Linked DNA regions of Homo sapiens: region 2 is linked to region 1. A link means that fine-mapping ties the variant in region 1 to the expression of a gene that starts in the linked region. Tissue or cell type: thyroid. Region 1 holds a variant in brackets; the other region holds the start of a gene. All regions are shown on one strand. Distances are between the middles of the regions.

Region 1 (8,094 bases):
CTTCTTAGTTTGTTGTTTTGGGCAAATCATCCAACTTCTATGGGCCTCAGTTTCAACACCCATAAAATAGGCACAACAATCTCCCTCCCCAAAGATACCCTTCGGTGTTCGTGAGCATAGAGCACGCCAGCTCCTGCTGCACAGAAACCTTTCTGACTCTCTGGAACAACTCGCTCCCCTCGGAAGTGACTCACCTGAACCCGCACCTGCTCTACTACGTTCAACTCCTCTAGCGTCAGTGGATGCTCCGGGTCATTGATGGAGCGAATCAGATGTGGGAAGTGAAGGAAAAGGGACTCTGCGCCCTTGCCCACTTAGAACCCTCTGCCAGGAACGCCCTGCTGGGATGCGGCTCCACCAGCTGCTCGATATCACTGCTCCCCCCACCGCAAGCCCCCGGAACCCGCCCGCGCCCAGCAGCGGCGGATATCGAAGATCTCGCGTGCGTCGATGCTGTCGGGAACCTGCTCGTCCTCCTCGCCTGCCGTCACAGGCCGCTCCCCAGAGCGCTGGTAGATGAGGGGGTTGGCATTCTCCAGGAGGCCGCCGCCGACCCCGCCGCCGCCTACCATCGCGGAACCACCACCGCTGATCCTAGCAGGCGTGCGCTTCCGCTCCAACCCGCGCACTTCCGGAGAACGGGAAGGGGGCGTGGCGTGGCGACGGAGTCGCGCGAGGGACACGCCGCGTTGTGGGTTCTCGGCCTGAGGTGCGAGAGAAGCGGTGACCGCGGCCCTGGCTGCTCGGACCCGGGAACATGATGGTCGCTGGAGCAGAAGGCGCTGAGAAGGGACCACGGCGGCGCTGGGTCGTGCGAGCCAGTAGCGGGCTGAAACGTAGAGGCCAGAACCAGGTCTCAGGGGGCACTAAAGGCGGTCGGAGGTAATCCCCACACCGCTTCCTCCTGGAAGTCAGGCTGGCCGGGAGCTCCCGTATCCAGGACGGTTGGTCGCCTCTGGCCTGGCAGGGATCCTAGTGTCTCGGGACCTCCCGGTGACGCGCCTGCCTCCCCTGCTGCACCATAGGCCCGGGAGTACGGCGTCCCCACAGCTTGGACCGGCAGGGGCTCGTGAAATGTTTGTCAAGTGGATAAATGACCATGGCCGTGGTCTCCGCGGGAGGTGAGGAAACTGAAAGCCACCGAGGAAAAGGGGGGCGCTCCTTAAGAAGTGCCGCGGTCACGTGTACGTTTCAAAAGAATGGCGTGACTGAGTAGGGAGGGGACCGCGGAGACCCTCAGACCCTGGACTGTAAGGAGATGAGGGGCCGTGAAGGGGAACCCAGGAAACTGAGTCCTGAAAGCAAGGAGGAACTTCCAGAATGAAGGGCGCCGACACTCCTTCCTGCCTTTGCTCAAGCGGTTCCTTCACCCCGATCAAGTTCCTTCCCATTTCTCCATCTGGGGGATCCTGAACGTGCACATCCTCAGAGAAGCCCTCCTGGGGTCTCCAATTCTAGTTTATTGCCCCCTCCTATCGATCCCCCAGCGCGCTCATCGGGCCTGTGGACAAGGACAGGTTTGAAGAGAGGATTCCCTGGATCGCGGAAGGGCTGCAGGAATGGCACAGCCCCTTCCGAGGATGCCAAAGGAGCCCGGGCAAAGGAAAGTGGCCGTGCCCGGGCCTGCCTACCACTAGATCCCCACCCACCTATGACTGCTCAGTCCCGCTCTCCTACCACACCCACCTTTCCCGGCCCAAGCCAGCGCACCCCGCTGACTCCCTGCCCAGTCCAAACTCCAAGGCTGGGCAAGGCACTGATCCACTGCTGGACAGACCCGGGGCAGCCTCTGGGTGAACAGCAGCGTGTCCGCCGGCAGCGAACCGAGACCAGCGAGCCGACCATGCGGCTGCACAGACTTCGTGCGCGGCTGAGCGCGGTGGCCTGTGGGCTTCTGCTGCTTCTTGTCCGGGGCCAGGGTGAGGCTCCCTCGGAGGGGCGACAGGGACCGGGCTCAGATCTGCCAAATGCTGCGGAGGCAGAACCTGACAGTGCGGGAGGGCAGGCGCCTGGGAGGTAGGAGCTGGTGGAGATGACAGCGTGGAACTCGTGAGCCCCACGCAACGCCTCCCCGCCGCCCAAGGTGGGCTCCTAGAAGCACAGAAAGGGTCGGGCTGGGGGACACCACGGCAAGGAACCAGCGGAGTACAGGGGCCCCAGGAGCGCCGGGACATGCCAGGCCGGGTAGGCAGCCTGGGGTCGGAGTGGGTGAGGGATTGGGGTGTGGGGATTCAGTCCATTTCCCTCTTATGATTGTGGCTGTAGCGGGTGCTGCCGGCCGGTAATAACAGTAATAGCTTCTGGCAGCATCTGGCTCTCAGTGTGTGGCGTCCTTGGCCAGGGGGGATGCCCTGAGCCCTCCAAAGGGGCCTCAGACAAGGATAGTGGTCCTTGGGGAACAGAAGCCCCCAGGCGCCAAATCCTAAAGCAGATCTAAGAGGCCACAGTGGCTGGGTGCGATTGGCTCACTCCTTTAATCCCACCACTTTAGAAGGCCAAGGGAGAGTATCGCTTGTGCCCAGGAGTTGGAGGCCAGCCTGGACAACATAGTGAGACTCGGAGTGTACAAAAAATTGAAAGAAATTAGTGGGCTGTGGTGGTCTGTGACCTGTAGTCCCAGCTACTTGGGAGGCTGAGGTGGGAGATCACTTTAGTAGGGGAGGTTGAGGCTGCAGTGAGCCTTCATCCCACTACTGCACTCCAGCCTGGGTGAAAAAGCAAAAATCTGTCTCCAGAAACAAGAACCAAAGAGCTCGTGGTGTCCCTCATGCCATTTACCTCATCCTGGGCAAGGGCACAACTTGGCTTCCAGGGCAAAGGTGAAGGCTCTGTGTGCCTGCCAGGCTTCTCCAGGCCCTTATCAGAAGCTGGGGGAGTGTTTCGGCCTTTGGTCCTCTCACCCGAAACTCTCCTAAGTGTATGATCTGTCTCTTCCAACCCTTCCCCAATTTAATTTGCGCAGGTGGAGTCCATACTCCCCCCGCCCCATGGTGCACTGCTGCAGGGCTTCCTCCCGTGCCTGCCCTTGACCACATTCTAGAGTTCACCAGGAGCCCAGCAGGAAGATCTGCCTGGCCTCACAGATGGCTACCTTTTAAAATATTTTGGGCCAGGCACAGTGGCTCACACCTGTTATCCCAGCACTTTGAGAGGCAGAGATGGGAGGATCACTTGAGGCTAGGAGTTAGAGACCAGCTTGGGCAACAAGACTTGTCTCTACCAAAAAAAAAAAAAAAAAAAGTCAAGCATGGTGGCAGACAGCTGTACTCCAAGCTACTCAGGAGGCTGTGGCGGGAGGATCTCAAGCCCAGGAGGTGGAGGCTGCAGTGAGCTGTTATCATATTACTGCATTCCAGCCTGGGCAACAGATGGCGACCTTGTCTGACAAATATATATGTATACAAAATTTTGGGTTGGACCCACATTCAGAAAAAATAATTGACAAGCCATAGGAGGGTACAGGTGATGTGTGCCATCCTCTTTTTACCCAACCAGTCCTGGCTTCTCCTCAGGGGCCATCAAAGTCCCCATGGCCCACACTGGAAACTGCTTGTTGACACCGCAGTACACACAGTGCCCAGCAGTTTACACAAGAATAGATGTGTGCACTTGTCCTTGATTTTCATCTAAACAGTCATAAACTCACCCACTTTCTGGAGCCAGGCTTTTCTACAGCTGGGACTACAGGCATGCACCACCACACCCCGCCAATTTATTTCCTGATTTTTTTGCAGAGACAGAGTCCCACTATGGTCCCCAGGCCAGTCACTGTGCTTTTTATATCCCAGCCACAGCCATACTTTTCTCTTGCACCTCTTTTCACCAACATCACTCATGGTTTGGATGATGCTTTCTTTACATGATTTCTTGCCACTTTGGACATGACATCCCTGAGGACAAGAAACTTGCCTGCCCAATTCCCACCATCATCCTACTGTCACATGACCTGGCACACAGTTGAAGGACACTCTAGTCCCATCAAGGGCATGTGACCCTTTGTTTGAAGGTCCTAGGGCTGAATGATGATGCCTGGCCCCAAGGAGCCTCAGCCTGGTGGGATGGAGACAGGCCCAGGAAGCCAGAGCGGGAAGGGAGTGTTACAGGCAGGAAGTTTGTAAAGCCCATGTTTACAGATCAGAGTCCCTTGAGCTAAGATGAGGATGGCAAGGAAGCAGCAATACCAACAGTTGGGAGGGCAGTCGATTGGTCAAACCCAACCGTGATGTCTGTCTCTCTGCCCACAGGCCAGGACTCAGCCAGTCCCATCCGGACCACACACACGGGGCAGGTGCTGGGGAGTCTTGTCCATGTGAAGGGCGCCAATGCCGGGGTCCAAACCTTCCTGGGAATTCCATTTGCCAAGCCACCTCTAGGTCCGCTGCGATTTGCACCCCCTGAGCCCCCTGAATCTTGGAGTGGTGTGAGGGATGGAACCACCCATCCGGCCATGTAAGCTCTCCAAGGGGTCCAGGGAACTCCAGGCCCTGGGGCAGGGGTGGGGGTGCTCTGAGCTCAGCTAGGCTGCAGTTATCATTTCATCTAAACCCCCACAGCCAGTTTTCCTTCTGAGTTTCGTGGATTCCCACGTGCATTTTTCCAATGAGCATGCTGAGGCTCAGGAGGGCAGAATAACTTCTCAGACTCCTGGATCAGGGCTTGGCATTCAGAAGACATTGGCTCCAGGTGCCGAAGGGAGGGGCAGACACACGTATCTCCCCAGATTCTGGTTATGCCAAGCTTTCTCTGCCACCAGTGGCAGGTGTCTCTGGGAAAGGTTCGGGTTGGCTCTATGAACCTTGTAGGAGCCCCTAACTCTAGTGGCAGATGTTGCAAATACCTGAAGAGAACAG[T/C]AGTGGTAGCTTTCTGGGGACCTGCACTCTCCACAGGCACTGTGTCCACTGACAGGACCAGGAGCCATTGGCCAAGAGACATGTATATGTATATGTATATGTTTCCAACTGGAGGCCATGTAGGAATGATGAGTTTTTGAGAGTTTAGACTTGGGATGAGAGACATCCCACTGCCCTTCTCATGAGAAATTAACATCCATTCACTCATGTAGCACACATATGTGGGCTACTCCCCTGTCCCAGGCCTTACGGGTTACAGGAATATAGTGGTGAATGTCAACACATGCAGCCAATGGTTCTCATAGAAACCCCTAAGAGTCAAGGTTTCCGGCAGTGCGAGGAATGATACCCAAGGTCCTCAGTAACCTCGAGGCCTCCCTGGAAGTCCAAGCTGCATCCCAGCTTCCCCAGAGCCTGTGGCCTGTAACTTGGTGGGAAGGGATTTTTGAGAGGGATCATGTGTGAGCAGGATATTGTGGGAAGGGTCTGAGGGTGGCTGGGAGCACCTCTGAACCCAGGGTCTGGTTTTGGCCACAGCCTGGCCCCTGGACTGATTATTTGCCCTGGTTACCAGGTGTCTACAGGACCTCACCGCAGTGGAGTCAGAGTTTCTTAGCCAGTTCAACATGACCTTCCCTTCCGACTCCATGTCTGAGGACTGCCTGTACCTCAGCATCTACACGCCGGCCCATAGCCATGAAGGCTCTAACCTGCCGGTGGGTGTCAGGCCACAGTTCACTGGGGGTTGGAGGACAGTTCTTCTGCAAGAAGCTGAAAAGGACAATATTAGCTCAGGCCCTGCTTCAGAGTGGACCATGCTGAGAAGCTTCTCACTGTCAGGTCCAAGAAATGCTCCTTACCCAGACTGGGCAGCTGGCCCCTGGACATGGGGTCACAGAGTTCTGGCTGCTCCCAGAGGTCAAAGGCTGTGGCTCTGGGCTGGACCCAGGACTCACTCAGCCAACTCATGCCAGGAGATCCACTTAAGTGCCAAAGGGCTGCACCTTGAGGTGACCAAGAACCCCAGCCATGGATAATCTGTTGGGCCTATAGAATGGGCACACACAAAAACTTTTTTTCTTAGAGATGGCATCATGCTCTGTTGCCCAGGCTAAAATGCAGTGGCATGAACATACCTCTCTGTAACCTCGAAATCCGGGATGATCCTCTCAGATTAGCCTCCCGAGTAGCTGGGACTACTGGCCTATTCCACCATGCCTGGCTCATTTTTAAAACATTTTCTGTTGAAACGGGGTCTCACTATGTGGTTCAGGCTAAGGACATTTTTGGTTAATGTTCATGTGGAGCCATCAGGGAGACACCCCTTTTCTTTCCACTTTGGTGAATTATCTGGGGTTAATGAACCCAGGCTTTGATACAGGGGGTTCGATTGCAAAGATTGGGAGGCCTGGTCTTCCTGATAGATCTTGGGTGCCTAACCATTTGCCCATGTAATGAATTTGTGCTGGAGATCTAATGGGGAGGTAGACAGAGGCAAAGCACTGGTTGGTCTAGGTAGTGGCCCTGGTGGGGTTTGGGCTGGGTGGGAGCATCATGGTAGCTGCCTTGATTTCCCCAGGTGATGGTGTGGATCCACGGTGGTGCGCTTGTTTTTGGCATGGCTTCCTTGTATGATGGTTCCATGCTGGCTGCCTTGGAGAACGTGGTGGTGGTCATCATCCAGTACCGCCTGGGTGTCCTGGGCTTCTTCAGGTGAGACTAGGGCTGGGCTGGGCAACCCGGGCTGAGCGGGGCCAGGACAGCCCTGTGATCCCTGTCCCTGCTACTTCTCAGCACTGGAGACAAGCACGCAACCGGCAACTGGGGCTACCTGGACCAAGTGGCTGCACTACGCTGGGTCCAGCAGAATATCGCCCACTTTGGAGGCAACCCTGACCGTGTCACCATTTTTGGCGAGTCTGCGGGTGGCACGAGTGTGTCTTCGCTTGTTGTGTCCCCCATATCCCAAGGACTCTTCCACGGAGCCATCATGGAGAGTGGCGTGGCCCTCCTGCCCGGCCTCATTGCCAGCTCAGCTGATGTCATCTCCACGGTGAGTGCCCTCAGCTGAAGAGGCCTAGGCCTGCTCCCTCCCCTCATATCCCTCAGAGCCTCTGTCTGTTAAACGGGGATGACAAGGGCCATCGGGAGCATGCTCCAGGAGCTGCTGCCTACCGTGGAATTGCTGGGGGGCTCCAGGGTCAGAATTCACATCCTTCTGCCATTGCAGAGGCCGAGCTTGTTCTGTGGCTCCTGTGCAAAGTTGTCACCCTAGGGATCCCCACCATGAGGAGAATCATCTAGGCGGATGGGATGGCCCCTGTGTCTGGGACTTCTGAGTTGGAACAGTGTCAGAACTGCAGGAACTCATACGAAGTACCCTCTGAGATTTGGGGTACCCCTGTTCTTGGCCAGGGCCTTGGGCAAACTCCTCTCCTCTACCTGGAAGGATGAGCCAGCCCCTGCCTGGTCCCTTTACAGGTGGTGGCCAACCTGTCTGCCTGTGACCAAGTTGACTCTGAGGCCCTGGTGGGCTGCCTGCGGGGCAAGAGTAAAGAGGAGATTCTTGCAATTAACAAGGTTGGTCTAAATGGATGTGGGTGTAGAGGAAGGGGTGCAATAGGCATGGGGCTGGCAGGCCTGCACGGCCGTCATATTCCCTGGGCACATTACCTCATCTGCATGCCTGAGTGTCATAGCCCTGGGTCGGGACTGAAGGTCGGTGCATGCTGAGCCAAACAGTAATCTCCTGGGGTGGGTATGAGCATCCAGGGATAAACTGGGAAGGAGTGGAAGGTACTCAGAGGGCATCGGAAGATGTCTGGGACCTGACCTTGTTCCCTGACCTTACATTTCCCCTCAGCCTTTCAAGATGATCCCCGGAGTGGTGGATGGGGTCTTCCTGCCCAGGCACCCCCAGGAGCTGCTGGCCTCTGCCGACTTTCAGCCTGTCCCTAGCATTGTTGGTGTCAACAACAATGAATTCGGCTGGCTCATCCCCAAGGTGAGCCCCAACCCAAGCCCACAAGTGCCTGGGGAGCCCATCTGGTAGTGGGGGGTGTTCAGGGCTTCATAGCTCCAGGCTCATCCCATCCCCAGCTACAGACTCTCTCCTGGCCATCCAGGTCATGAGGATCTATGATACCCAGAAGGAAATGGACAGAGAGGCCTCCCAGGCTGCTCTGCAGAAAATGTTAACGCTGCTGGTAAGGCTCCTGGGGTCCCTCGCCAATGGAGACGGGCT
Region 2 (8,102 bases), 390 kb after region 1:
GGTGGCTTGTGCTTGTAATCCCAGCACTTTGGAAGGCTGAGGCAGGAGATTCACTTGAGCCCAGGAGTTTGAGGCTGCAGTGAGCTGTGATCGTGCCATTGCACTCCAGCCTGGGCGTCAGAGTGAGGCACGTCTCTAAAAAAATAAAAAATAAAAAGGAATGAAGTACTGATACATGATAACAACATGGATGAAATTCGAAACATTATGCCAAGGGAAAGAAGCCAAACAAAAAATCACATATGATTCCATCCACATGCAATGTGTGGACAAGGCAAATTTCTAGAGATAGAAAATAGATTAGTGGTTGCCTAGGGCTGGAGAGGCTATGGGGAGATGGGGTGTGACTACTAATGAGTATGGGATTTCTTTTGGGGATGGTGAAAATGTTCTAAAATTGATTGTGATGATAGTTGCACAACTCTGAACATACTAAAACTCACTGAATTGTACACATTAAAATGTGTGAATTGTATGGTATGTGAATTATATCTCAATAGATCTACAAAAAAAAAAAAAGATGAGGTACTGTCCATTCCATGGAGCGCATGCAGAACTCTCTTGGGATCTTACCTGCAGAGACATTACATTACTGGAGGATGAATGCTATAGATACCTTTTCATATATACAAAGGCAGCAAAGATCACTAACCTTCCTCAGCTCATTGTTAAAAGTTTAAGGTCATCTGTATATCTGTTGGACAAGAGGTTGTTGAAAAAAAAGTTTAAGGTCATCTGTACATCTGTTGGACAAGAGGTTGTTGAAAAAAAAGTTTAAGGTCATCTATTTATAAGTGAATTGTCTTCTTTGTTTCAAGATGACCTAGTTTATCAATACGATGGAAAAGTAGAGAGCCATCAAACATACAAACCATCCATATCAAATTTTAAAATAAAGGGCACTACCCTTGTAAAAATATTTTTTAAAGGGTAGTAAATAGTATATAGAATTTTACCTAAAAAGAACCATAAAACAATATCGAATTCTAATTAAAAATTATGCAGGCTGAAGTGATTGGACTGCAATGTACTGATATCTGCAATTTATTTTGAGATGAATTTAAAAAAGACAGATTGATGGACAGATAGGATTGCTAGATGGACATGTGATAAAACAAATATGAGCAAAATGTTGATTGTAGAATGCAGGTGGTGGATATATGGTGCTCACTGTACAATTCTTTCAATCTTTCTGTGTTTATAAAATTGCATTAAGACGTTCGTGGGGGAAAAACAGTGTTAAAGTAAGAGGTGATTACTTAAGAAAGGAAAAGCTCCCTGCTCCAGAAAGAACCTGCATTTCCCATTCTGACAGCTGAGGAAGGAAAATAAATGCATGCAAGAAAGAATGGGATGGGGTCCATCTCTCCCACAGCAATATTCAGACATAAAGAAGAGCAATTATATATGCCACATTTGAGACTAGAAGAGTTAAAGGGGGTAATAAGAGAAATATGACAAATTGTGAAATGATTGCATAACTGACAGAAGCAGAGCCAGAAAAGTCAATCTAATGAGCTAACCTAGAATTCTAAGTCCCAGCCCTTCTAAAAGCCTTTCTACAAGTTCATGTTCAGGCAAAGGCTGAATGTAACAAATGGAGTGACTAAGGGTCTCACATAGACCAGAAAGCATAAATATGCAAGGAAGGACCCTTGATTCTGCTTTCTGTTCTCCTTAAAGGTGGCTGAGAGCTCAATGGGGGTGCTCAGAGTGTGCAGATGTTGGATGCCAAAGAAAACCTACTTCTCGAAGGTGAGCCCCAGTTCTGGTCTCAGTTCCTCTTTTCTTTCTTTCTTTTTTTTCTTTTTTTCTTTTTTTCTTTTTTTTTTTTTTTGAGACGGAGTCTCGCTCTCTAGCCCAGGCTGGAGTGCAGTGGCACGATTTTGGCTCACTGCAAGCTCCACCTCCCGGGTTTACGCCATTCTCCTGCCTCAGCCTCCAGCCTCCTCAAGTAGCTGGGACTACAGGCGCCCGCCACCACGCCCGGCTTTATTTTATTTTATTTTATTTTATTTTGTTTTATTTTTGTATTTTTAGTAGAGATGGGGTTTCACTGTGTTAGCCAGGATGGTCTCGATCTCCTGACCTCGTGATCCACATGCTTCGGCCTCCCAAAGTGCTGGGATTACAGACGTGAGCCACCACGCCCAGCCCACCCTCTTTTCTTGTTAAGGATAGGGTGTGACAAGAGGGTCCTGGCTCCTTCTTACATACATGTCCCATCCACAGGTGGGCTCTTAAGTGCCTGCTGGAGTGAGGGTAGGGGTTAGGGATGCGGCTGTTCTTTCCCAAAGACTACTCAGGGGCTGGTTAGTGCAGAGCTATCGCAGCCTGGCGACAGCCCTCAGTCACAGGCAAGCTTAGGGGAACCTGTGGTGCTTGAAAGACAAAAGGCTTCTTGCCGGACTGACTTCAGGAAACGGGGTAGCCCTAAAGCAGTCATCCCCACCCCATTACAAAGAGCTTCTCTCTTTCCCACGCTGATCCTTCTCCCCCGAAGAAGCTCCGTCCAAGTAAATTTCTTACCTTTTTTTTTTTTTTTTTTTTGAGACAAGGTCTGGCTCTGTCACTCAGGTCGCCCAGGCTGGAGTGCAGTGGTGCAATCTCGGTTCACTGCAACCTCCACCTCCCGGGTTCAAGCGATTCTCCTGCCTCAGCCTCCCGAGTAGCTGGGACTACAGGCCGTGCCACCACACCCGGCTAATTTTTGTATTTTTAGTAGAGATGGGGTTTCACCATGTTGGCCAGGCTGGTCTTGAACTCTTGACCTCAGGTGATCCGCCCACCTCGGGCTCCCAAAGTGCTGGGATTACAGGCGTGAGACACCGCGCCCAGCCCGTCCAAGTCAATTTCTAGAGCTAGAACTTCCTCATGCTCTAAAGACAGGACCCCAACTCCTCAGAGCCAGGATTCCCAACCTTTCAGATCTGGAGCTCCCCATCATGCCTTAGAGTTCTGTCCCCACGCTCCAATCCTTCAGATTTGGATCTCCCCTTCACACACACCCTCGCCTTGCCCCAAAGTCAGCATCCCCCAGCGCTGAGATATGAAGACCACCCCGTCAAAGGGGCACACGCCCAGCCCTCAGAACCGGAGTCCCCCACATCCTCAGAGCCAGAACACTTCATCCCTCAAGACAGAGCGTTATTCTAACTCCTCAGAGCCAGCCCCCCAAATCCTTCCCGGCTGGGGGCCCCTCGCTCTCTCCCATGCCCCAGAGCCAGGTCTCGAACCACTTAGCCCCAATCCTTGGCCACAGCGGCCCCCATTCGCCGCTTTGGTGCTTTTGGCGCCCCCGCCAGAGCGGGCTCCGTACCATGGTCGCGGCTCCAGCAGCGGGCGGGCGGGCTTGTGACCCGGCCAATAACGGTTCCCGGGGTCGCGGCGGCGCGCGCGCGGGGGGCGGGGCAGTGGGCGGGGCCTGGCGTGCGCCGGGTGGTCTCGCGGGCGGTGGCAGGTGAGCGGCGGGCGGGGATGGCGGAGCAATGGGAGCTGGACGAGGAAGGCATTCGCCGCCTGGGGGCGCTGACGCTGGAGCAGCCGGGTAGGGTCTGGCCGGGAGGGTGTGGACTGGGAACGTAGGGTCAGAAGCTGTGGAAAGAAAACTGAAGTGGAAGGCGGGGAACCTGAGATAGAGGCGAGGGAACCACAGAGAAGCGGTACCTGAGGCTGGGGGGCGGGGGGATAACTTGAGGCAGAAGGTTAGAGGGAGGTGGAGGTGGAGGAACTGAAGTAACGGGAGGGTGTGGGGCAGAGCCCGAGGAATTGAGAGAGAAGAGGGGAGTGTGAAGTAGGGAAGGAGAAACAAGGTTAACAGGGGACCCTGCCGCAGGTGACAGAACTGCGGGGGGCGGTGGCTGACCGCTGTAATCCCAGCACTTTGGGAGGCGGAGGCGGGTGGATCACCTGAGCGTGGCCAACATGGTGAAACCCCGTCTCTACTAAAATACAAAAATTAGCCCGGCGTGGTGGTTCAAGTCTATAATCCCAGCTACTCGGGAGGCTGAGGCAGGAGAATCGCTTGAACCCGGGAGGCGGAGGTTGCAGTTAGCCGAGATCGCACCACTGCACTGCAGCCTGGGCGACAGAGCGAGACTCCATCTCAAAAATAATAATAATAAATAAAATAAATAAATAATAAAATGTCTATTAGACATCCAAGTGTAAGGTACCTAGTAGGCAGTTGGATATATGGGTCTGGACCTCAGAGGAGAGGTCAGGGTTAGAGATGAAAATTTTGGAGACATTAGCAATAGGTGGTATTTAAAGCTACGGGAGTGGATGAACTCAGCTAAGGAGAGAATGTCGATGGAGAAGTGAAAGAAAGCTTAAGACTCAACCTTGGAATATTTCAGTGTTTAGAGGTTGTATAGAGGAAGAATGTGGTATCTTGGAATTTGAGAAGGGGTAGTGTATCGAGCAAGCAATGGCCAACTGTGCCAAATGCTATTGACAGGCTGAGCAACTTAAATGCAGAGTGTCTGTTAGATTTAGCAACATGGAACTTACTGGTGACCTTGACAGAGGGAGTTTTGGGAGGGTGGGGAGGAGGGAAACCAGATTGGAGTGGGATGAAAAAGGGAAATGATATTTGAGGGGAAGAGACAGTGAAAGTAAGAACTTTTGCTGAAAATTTTAGCTGTAAAAGAGACTGCAGAAATAGATGGTAGCTGAAGCGTATGATGTGCAGTCAAGAACAGAACAGGAAGGATATACTAGAGCATGTCGGTAGTCTAATGATTAATTTGGTAGAGGGGGGAAATATGTAATATTTACTCATTTTGACTGTTAAAATAATTCAATTAATTTATTCTGTGGGTAATATAATAATTGTACAGTGAGGGCCAGGCGCGGTGGCTCACGACTGTAATCCCAGCACTCTGGGAGGCCGAGGCGGGCGGATCACGAGTCAGGAGATCGAGACCATCCTGGCTAACACAGTGAAACCCCGTCTCTACTAAAAATACAAAAAAAATTAGCGGAGCATGGTGGCGGGCGCCTGTAGTCCCAGCTACTCGGGAGGCTGAGGCAGGAGAATGGCGTGAACCCAGGAGGCGGAGCTTGCAGTGAGCCGAGATCGCGCCACTGCACTCCAGCCTGGGTGACAGAGTGAGACTCCGTCTCGAAAAAATAAATAAATAAAATAAAAATTGTACAGTGAGAAGAAAGTCTTTACTCCCCCATCCCCGTCTCATAGGCCTAGTTCCCCTTCCTAAAGGCAATTACTGTTACCAGTATCTTGGATAGTTTTCCAGAAATATTCTCTACATATATAAGCATTTATCACTTATTTTATAATTTTATATTATGGCAATTTTCAAATATATACAAGAGTAGAGATAACAGAATAATGAACTCTATTAGCCTACCTCAACAGTTATCATCAATTCATGGCCAAGCTTCTTTCACGTATACCTCACCTATCCTCCACCCACCTCCAACCCCCTACACTGACTATTTTGAAGCAAATTCCAAGTATGTGATTTCCTCCATAAATATTTCAGTAGTATTTTATTTATTTATTGTTTTTATTATTTTTCAGATAGAGTTTTGCTCTGTCACCCAGGCTCTAGGGCAGTGGCGTGATCTCGGCTCACTGTAATCTCCACCTCCGCATTTCAAGCGATTCTTCTGCCTCAGCCTCCCAAGTAGCTGGGACTACAGGCACCCGCCACCACGCCCGGCTAATTTTGTATTTTCAGTAGTGACAGGGTTTTGCCATGTTGGCCAAGCTGGTCTTGAACTCCTGACCTCAAGTGATCCACCCACCTCAGCCTCCCTAAGAGTTGGGATTATAAGTGCAAGCCACAGCACCTGGCCAGTATGTATTTTTAAAAGCTAAGATTACTTTAAAAAAAAGTCACATATGCAACCTAAAAAATTTAACAGTAATTTCTTTTTTTGGTTTTGTTTTGTTTTTGAGATGGAGTCTGGCTCTGTTGCCCAGGCTGGAGTGCAGTGGCATGATCTCAGCTCACTGCAACCTCTGCCTCCAGGGTTCAAGCAATTCTCCTGCCTCAGCTTCCTGAGTAGCTGGGATTTCAGGCATGTGCCACCATGCCTGGCTAATTTTTTTGTATTTTTAGTAGAGACGGGGTTTCACCATGCTAGCCAGGCTAGTCTTGAACTCCTGACCTCAAGTGACTCAGCCTCCTAAAGTGAACAGTGATTTCTTGATATCATGAAATATCTAACTAGTGTTCTTATTTCCCCAGTTGTCCTATAATTTTTTAAAATTAGAATCCATGGCCGGGTGCGTTGGCTCATGCCTGTAATCCCAGCACTTTGGGAGGCCAAGGTGGGTGGATCACTTGAGGCCAGGAGTTCAAGACCAGCCAGGCCAACATGGTGAAACCCCATCTCTATTAAAAATACAAAAATTAGCTGGACATGGTGGCTCACACCTGTAATCCCAACTACTTGGGAGGCTGAGGCAGGAGAATCGCTTGAACCCGGGAGACGGAGGTTGTAGTGAGCTGAGATCGCGTCACTGCACTCCAGCTTGGGTGGCAGAGCAAGTCTCCATCTAAAAAATAAAATAAAATAAGAATCCGTATATGGTCCATATATTGCAATTGGTTGATGTATGTCTTAAGTCTTATTTGATCTGTAGGCTCCCCATTTTTTTTCCCTCGCATTTTCAATTGTTTTTGAAGAAACTGGCTTTGAAAGAGTTTACTATAACCTGAACTTTGCTCATTGCATTCCTAAGATGTTAAACATTTTCCCGTGTTCCCTGTACTTCCTATGAATTGGTAGTTAGATGAGGCTTAATCAGATTCAGGTTGGATTTTTTTTTTTTCACAAGACGATTTCATAGGTAATGGTGTATGTTTATGTTAGGAAGTATATGGTGCCTAGTGTTCTTTCTTTTCGTGATATCAGCCACTGAATATGATTACCTAAGTTAATTCATTAGGGATTGCAAAATGGTAATTGTCTATTTCTTTCATTTTTCTTCATTAACTGTAATACTTCTATAAAGAGAAATTTCCTCACATCAACTGTTTGCTTATCCTGAGGTACAGTTTGTATAGGAAAGGCAGCATAAAAGCTTGATTTGTTTTCACCTTATATGCCAGCTTTCAGAATGATGAGTTATTTTCTTAGCATTCTCCAAAGGTGACCAGTGAGGACTGTTTTGCTTTCTCAGTATCATTATAAACTCATCGATTTAAATATATGTCTTAGGGCTGGGCATGGTCGTTCACGCCTGTAATCCCAGCATTTTGGGAGGCCAAGGAGGATGGATCACCTGAGGTCAGGAGTTCAAGACCAGTCTGTCCAACATGGTGAAACCTCATCTGTACTAAAAATACAAAAAAAATTAGCCCGGCATGGTGGCAGGTGCCTATAATCCCAGCTACTCAGGAGGCTGAGGCAGGAGAATCACTTGAGCCTGGGAAGCAGAGGTTGCAGTGAACTGAGATCGCACCACTGCACTTCAGCCTGGACGAAAGACTGAGACTCAGTCTAAATAAATAAATAAATAAATAAATGTCTTAGTCCCTTTTCTCTTGTCATAACAGAATACCATAGACTAGGTAATTTATAAAGAACAGAAGTTGATTTGGCTCATGGTTCTGGAGGCTGAGAAGTCCAAGAGCATGGTGCCAACATCTGGTGAGGGTCATTCCATGGTGGAAGGGCAGAAGGTGCATGTGTGAGATGTGAGAGAGAAAGAGAGAGAGAGAGAGAGAGAGAGAGAGAGAGAGAGAGAGAGAGAAGACTGAACTAATTCCTTTATTAGGATAGCTAACTCCCGTGATAACTAACTCCATGATAACAGCATGAAGCCACCGTTGACCTAATCACCTCTTAGAGGCCCCACCTCGCAGTGCTGTTACATTGGCAATTACGTTTCAACATGAAAGCTGGGCATGGCGGCTTACACACTTTGGAAGGCCAGGGAGGAGGATGAGGCCAGGTATTTGAGACCAGCCTGGGCAACACAGCAAGATCCTGTCTCTACAAAAAATTTAAAAATTAACTGGGTGTTGGTGGTGTGTACCTGTAGTCCCAGCTACTCAGGAGGCTGAAGTGGAAGGATCCTCTGACCCCAGGAGTTTTAGGCTGCAGTGCACTATGATAGTGCTACT

The links. PIP is the estimated chance that this variant, and not a neighbour inherited with it, causes the effect.
Region 2: it holds the start of LRRC36, and the variant in region 1 is fine-mapped to the expression of LRRC36 in thyroid (GTEx, PIP 0.96).

What each region holds. Positions count from the first base shown.
Region 1 is chr16:66,933,793-66,941,886 of GRCh38, forward strand. CIAO2B (cytosolic iron-sulfur assembly component 2B) reads right to left here and starts at 610. Exons shown (of 5, transcript NM_016062.4): 1 at 431-610; 2 at 195-274. The coding sequence starts at 572. It overlaps CES2 (carboxylesterase 2), which reads left to right and starts at 1,724. Exons shown (of 12, transcript NM_001365405.1): 1 at 1,724-1,919; 2 at 4,245-4,449; 3 at 5,425-5,566; 4 at 6,430-6,563; 5 at 6,645-6,903; 6 at 7,332-7,430; 7 at 7,714-7,854; 8 at 7,976-8,056. The coding sequence starts at 1,844. RefSeq lists enhancers at 216-265, 296-495, 1,334-1,946, 6,766-7,265, 7,325-8,094. The variant T/C (reference allele first, on the strand shown) is at 4,851.
Region 2 is chr16:67,323,386-67,331,487 of GRCh38, forward strand. LRRC36 (leucine rich repeat containing 36) reads left to right here and starts at 3,430. Exons shown (of 14, transcript NM_018296.6): 1 at 3,430-3,547. The coding sequence starts at 3,478. KCTD19 (potassium channel tetramerization domain containing 19) reads right to left here and starts at 3,356. Exons shown (of 16, transcript NM_001100915.3): 1 at 3,320-3,356. The coding sequence starts at 3,322. RefSeq lists an enhancer at 1,488-1,567 and a silencer at 3,323-3,472.